Regions from separate parts of the Homo sapiens genome. Here region 2 is linked to region 1. The links come from fine-mapping of genetic effects on gene expression. A gene starts in region 1. The other region holds a variant in brackets. All regions are shown on one strand. Distances are from middle to middle. Region 1 holds the start of CFAP418 (cilia and flagella associated protein 418). Region 2 overlaps CFAP418-AS1 (CFAP418 antisense RNA 1).

What was found. PIP is the estimated chance that this variant, and not a neighbour inherited with it, causes the effect.
Region 2: its variant is fine-mapped to the expression of CFAP418 in breast (GTEx, PIP 0.99).

What each region holds. Positions count from the first base shown.
Region 1 is chr8:95,267,562-95,270,475 of GRCh38, reverse strand. CFAP418 (cilia and flagella associated protein 418) reads left to right here and starts at 1,275. Exons shown (of 6, transcript NM_177965.4): 1 at 1,275-1,441. The coding sequence starts at 1,287. CFAP418-AS1 (CFAP418 antisense RNA 1) reads right to left here and starts at 1,640. Exons shown (of 4, transcript NR_038209.1): 1 at 1,586-1,640. It overlaps TRS-AGA2-5 (tRNA-Ser (anticodon AGA) 2-5), which reads left to right and starts at 738; the gene lies at 738-819. RefSeq lists enhancers at 534-613, 650-1,289, 1,244-1,683.
Region 2 is chr8:95,289,296-95,292,209 of GRCh38, reverse strand. All of the region lies in intron 1 of CFAP418-AS1 (CFAP418 antisense RNA 1), which reads right to left. Among named protein-coding and RNA genes, the nearest start is that of TRS-AGA2-5, 21 kb to the right of the region's middle. The variant C/G (reference allele first, on the strand shown) is at 1,349.

The sequences.
Region 1 (2,914 bases):
GTCCCATTGGCTCCAGCACACCACTACATGTTGCTCTTCAGGGACCTTAAAAGATACTTTGAACAAACAAATCATCTGGATCAAACTATCTCCAGAGTTCCCAAGGGTGCCAACCTCTTTGCTACCCCACTTTAGAAATACCCAAAACACAGGTTAAACTATGCACAGTATTTATTAAGAATGCCATTTACAATACCTTACACTTGTATCACGCTTTACACTTTTCAAAGTAGTGCTTTTATGGCACGGTGGGACTGTCTGACCCTGCAGAGTGAATTTAAATCGCTGGGTAATAGCTTTTTAATGTATAATGGGTGAAAAGATAGTCCTGGGAGCCGTTTGTCAAAGAGAAAGGCGAAGGAGTGGAACTGGCAGCCCCACAAGGAAGTCGGGAAGCTGGTTGGCCCCTACCCGGTTCCTGGTTCTCTCCTGGAAATGGCTCCAACATTGTGCAAGCAAGTGGGTGTGCAATAGTTTTGAGCACGCATCTCTCTCTCTGTCTCTCTCTCTCTCTCTCTCGGATTTAATTAGAATTTCCGTTTTTTCCAACAAAGAGTTGGACGGGATACGTTCTAAGACTTTTACAAACTGTAAAATGATGAGCGAGGTAACATTCAAATATGCTCTTAACAGAACAGCTCAGTAATGGTTTCCTCCACATCAAAACGTGCCTATTGCTGCAGCAGACGCTTATGCAGAGTCTACATGCACTCTCACCGCAAAAATTCACACAGCCAGTAGTCGTGGCCGAGTGGTTAAGGCGATGGACTAGAAATCCATTGGGGTCTCCCCGCGCAGGTTCGAATCCTGCCGACTACGGGAATGTCAGCTTTTTGCCGTCAACACTTACTTTTTGTGTTTTAGAGCGTTCTGCTCAAACCTTCCACAGATTTCAGGAATTTACAAACGGCTGAAACACAACAGGGACCCAAACGGGAGAGGAGAGAATGAAGGGGCGAGAATGCGTGCTTGTGGTTACAACGTGGGCCCGGGAGGGGGAGACGGGAGGAACCACGCCAGACATGCTGAAAGGAAGAAACGCAAAGCATCGCGAGTCACACAGACACACTGCAGAGACAGCTCCGAACTCTGTCCCTGCATACGCCCGCCCCTCACGAACCCACCGCGTTCTCTGCCGCGAGCCCTCGTGGGCGCCGGGTTGCCACGGGAAGCGGTGCGCATGCGCGGGGACGCCTAACGGGGCAGGAGCCCGCCAGGTCCCCTCGTTACTCCTGGAAACCACCGGAGCCTTGGCGATTGGAGGGGAAAAGGCCAGGCGATTCAAGATGGCGGAGGACCTGGACGAGCTCTTGGATGAAGTCGAGTCCAAGTTTTGCACACCTGACCTTCTAAGACGGGGTATGGTCGAGCAGCCCAAAGGCTGCGGCGGCGGCACCCACAGTAGCGACCGGAACCAAGCCAAGGCGAAAGAGACGCTCAGGTTAACCGGGCGGGAGGGGTGGACTGTTCTGGTAAAGCCCTGCTCCAGGCCCTAGAGCTGCCCCTCCGCCGCCCAACCCAAAAGAAACGTGCCCGCGACCTCCAGCCCCTCCTTGCATCAGGGTTCAGACCCTCAGCGCCCTACCCTCCGCGGCAGCGCATTCGTCGACCCTCTTCGCGGATTCTGGCACCTCTTCACTCAGCGCAGACTCCGCCCCCCGGCATGCCCCAGAGGGCTGGCCCCCGCCCCGCCCCGCCCCGCCCCGCCCCGCCCCGCCCCGCCCGCAGAGCCCGCAGTCCGCGCCAGTCTCCTTCATCCTGTTTCTGGCTGCCAGCGCGTAGGAGGTTCTAGTCGGGGACCGGGATACCCCTCAGGCGCCCCGTTCTTAACCCCGAGAGGGCTGTGCTGACCTCGGCCGCATTTTGCCTCTGTGTGGCCAAGCGGTTCTCATCTCCCTGTGAGGTGCCCTGTTAGACAGCCTCATCCCATTGCCTCAGACCCCACTCCCCAGGTCAATCCTATTTGTCTTTAGCTCAGTTTTGTTGTTTTGTTTGTTTTTTGAGATGGAGTCTCGCTCTGTCGCCCAGGTTGGAGTGCAGTGGCACGATCGTAGCTCACTGCAGCCTCCAACTCCCGGGTTCAAAGATCCTCCCACCTCGGCCTACCCTAGCTGGGATTACAGGCACGAGCCTGTAATCTGGGATTACGTAAACTGGGATTACAGGCACGAGCCCGGTTAATTTGTATTTTTTGTAGAGACAGTCTCACTGTGTTGGCCAGGCTGGTCTTGAACTCCTGAGTTCAAGCTGTCCTCCCGCCTCTGCCTCCCCTAACTGCTAGGATTACAGTTGCGAGCCATCGCACCTGACTCAGTTTGTTTTATTTTTTTAACTCAGGGAGTTAAGATGAGATTAAATTCATTACAAAAGGGTTAATTATTGTGAACATTAAACCGTCTACCTTCCTTCTCTCCATGGCCCCCTAGTTAAGGGTGCCAGACATACATATGGAAATTTAAGGACATTTCTTAAGGTATTTTGGTTTTTTATCTAAAAACTACCTTTCAAATTTACCAGTCGTTTTTCCTCCATGTAATTATTAAATAATAGGATTTCCTTCACTTCCTCATTTCCCCCACAACCCCTCAAAAAAAAAAAACAAAATGTTTGCATAAGAATATTGACCTTCAGTAACTCTTGCTAGAATCTTTTGGAAATTGCCTCTTGCCTAGAATATTTTGGAAACGCTTGTGAAATTACACGGAGGCAACTTTGGATCAATCTAAGAACGTCATCTCCGTTAATTTTTTTGCTGCATCTTTGGTTTGGTTTTGGTTTTTTGGTGTGTGTATGTGTGATTTCCCAAAGTATTATCCAACTCTGTTACTATCCAGTTCACCTGGCTTACCTCCAGTGATATTTATTTATTTTATTTACTTATTTATTTATTTTTGAGTTTCGCTCTGTCGCCCAG
Region 2 (2,914 bases), 22 kb before region 1:
CATTATTGTACTTAGCATTATGTACTCAAGGTTCATCTATGTGGTCATATAGTGCAGAATTTCCTTCTTTATTAAGGCTGAGTAGTATCCCACTGTATATATATACATTTTCTTCATCCGTCTCTCAATGGACACTAAGTTTGTTTCCACCTTTTTTGCTGCAATAAACACTGGAGTGCTACTATCTCTTCAAGATTCTCATTTCAACTGTTTTGGATAAACACCCAGAAGTGGGATTGCTGGATCATATGGTAGTTCTAGTTTTTAGTTTTTGAGGAACCTCCACACTTTCTCTTAGCAGCTACACCATTTTGCATTCCCACCTACAGTGTACAAGATTTCCAATTTGTCCACATCCTCACCAACAGATGTAGTCTTTTGTTTTGTTTTTTGATAATAGCTACCCTAACAGGTATGAGATAATATTTCATTGTGGTTTTGGTTTGCACTACCCTGATGATTAGTGACATTGAGCATTTTTAATATACTTGGCCATTTGTGTGTCTCCTTTAGAGATTAGACCATTATCCTCTATCATACACAAAAATCAACTCAATGTGGGTCAGAGACTTAAATTTATGACCTGAAATTATAAAAACTCCTAGAAGAAAACATAAGGAAGAAGTCAATGATTTCATGAATATGGCACCAAAAGCACAGGCAATGAAAACAAAAATAAGTCAATTACATCAAACTAAAAAGCTTCTGAACAGCAAAGGAGACAAGTAAGAGAGTGAAAAGGCAACCTATGGAATGAGAGAGAATACTTGCAAACCATACATCTGATACAGGGTTAAACTCCAGAATACCTCAGAACCCTCTACAACTGAATTTTTTTTTTAAAGTAACCTGATTTGTTCTTTTTGCTTAGAATTGCTTTGGTTATTACACACATACTTGGTTTTATATAAATTCTAGCACTGTTTTTTTCTAATTCTGTGAAAAAAACACATTGGTAATTTGATAATTGCATTGAATTTATAGATTGGTTTGTGTAGTACACTTATTTTAAAAATATTGGTTCTTTTGAAAAAAAAACTGGGCTAAGAACTTGAATAGACATTTCTCCAGTGACATATTTATAAGATTGGGAAGAGGGAAAAAAAGGAAGAAATTAGTGCTGTAACAAAATATTCACCAGGTATCAGTTTTTTTCTTATGAGCCTTTGCACAGCCTCTATAGGCTGGCCACATCCACAGGGGTTCTGTGCCTGGGAGGCATGGAAAACACTCTAAAACAGTGTCCTGGTAGCCATTTAAAAAAGGGTGGACTTAGAAAACAGCAATAATGAAGTGTGATTCCCCATTACTGCAGCCCTGCCAGGCCCTATAAACCATCTGAGAGCTC[C/G]TAGCACCTGTGGCACTAAGGCCCCAAAGCAAGTGAGGGGAGAAGGGAGTGGCTACCTTTCCTGTTTCAGAGATGTAGAAAGAGGTGAAGGATGATAAAGCCTGCTAGTGCACAGAAAGGAACACTCTCATCACAAGGAAAAGATATAGCCACCTGAAAAGTAAAAGTAATTATTATTATTATTAGTGAGAAATGAAATAATTAGTCTGGGAGCAGAGACCTGGCTATTAAGTATGTGTCTCACGAAACAGTCAAATATGGGCAAAGATCACAAAAAGAACTAGAATGGAGATAAGTGGAGTTATTTAGAAAATGAAAAAATATATATTTTTAAATCATCAGCTACAGTTAAGAATGGCCAAAATCTGAGCGCTTGTTTACAGAGGAAATTGACTGGAAACCCAGAGAGGTGTCCTCGGTCTACTCAGAGTTCTTGTTGGACCCTTCTAAGGAAGATAGAGGTGTTTGCTGTCCTTCATCCCAGGAAGCTGTCCTGAGTAGGGCAAGGCGGCATCACCCAAGCCATATGGAGCTTTCAAAGGAAAGAAGGAGAGGACAGTGAAGGTAAACCAGCTGTTTCTCACTGGGTTAGAAAAACTTCCAGAAAACCACACAGAGCCTTCTAAATGATGGGACATGCTGAACATGCCAAAGAGAAAGGTCCCATTGGGATGGCATTGGAGGGTATTTTCCCCCTTTACTTGTAATGATTCAAACACTGATGGATGCCATGCAAAATTGAGGAAGCAGTGGGGGGAAGGGGGATCTTGATGGAGCTCATGTATGCAACATATGGAACAAGTTATTGAAGAAAGTGCTTCTAACAGAGTTTATGAAAGTTAAGAAGAGGCAGTTATGCTTCTTTTAGAGACAGCAAAGATTAAGGGCGTGGTGAAAAAAATAGCGAAACAGGATTAAGATAAAGCAAAACAGAGGAGAAATATTGGACCAGATGAACTTTCACCTTCCCTAAAATGATTTATGTACTTATGAAGAGCTAGACTGGACTTGATTTCAGGGGGTGAGAGTTGCTGGTGAACCTGCATGTACCCAGTATTTCTGCAGAAATTCTGGACAAATCTACACTTCTACAGGCAAAGCCAACACTGAACATGCATGGTGATGAGGTTCTCTATTTAAATAGGACAAACACTTACTTGAGCACCTCATTCAGAGTAACAAAGAGAGAAGGAAATAAAAAAGGAAACAGCATCTGAATATAAAGAAATCTAAGTAAAGAAGTGGCTTTTTGTAATGCTCCAGTTTTTTTATCTTTGTTCTAGAAAATAATCATTTCTCTCTGTTTCATTTATGACTTATTGGTGTCAGAACTCAAGAGAGGCTCAAATGTGACAAAAGGCCCTGTGAGGACCCAACAAGATCTAACCAGTCTATTTCACAGTGGCTTAGGCCAGAGAGGATTGGGCAGAACAAAAATGGTTAGCATAGTGGTGAGCTAAATGTCAGTGTGTCTGACTAACTGTCACAGGGGAAAGCAGGAGCCAGAATCACCAGGAGATGAAGCGTAAGACTTGGAAACTTTACTGCATTGCAGGTAGTGGATGG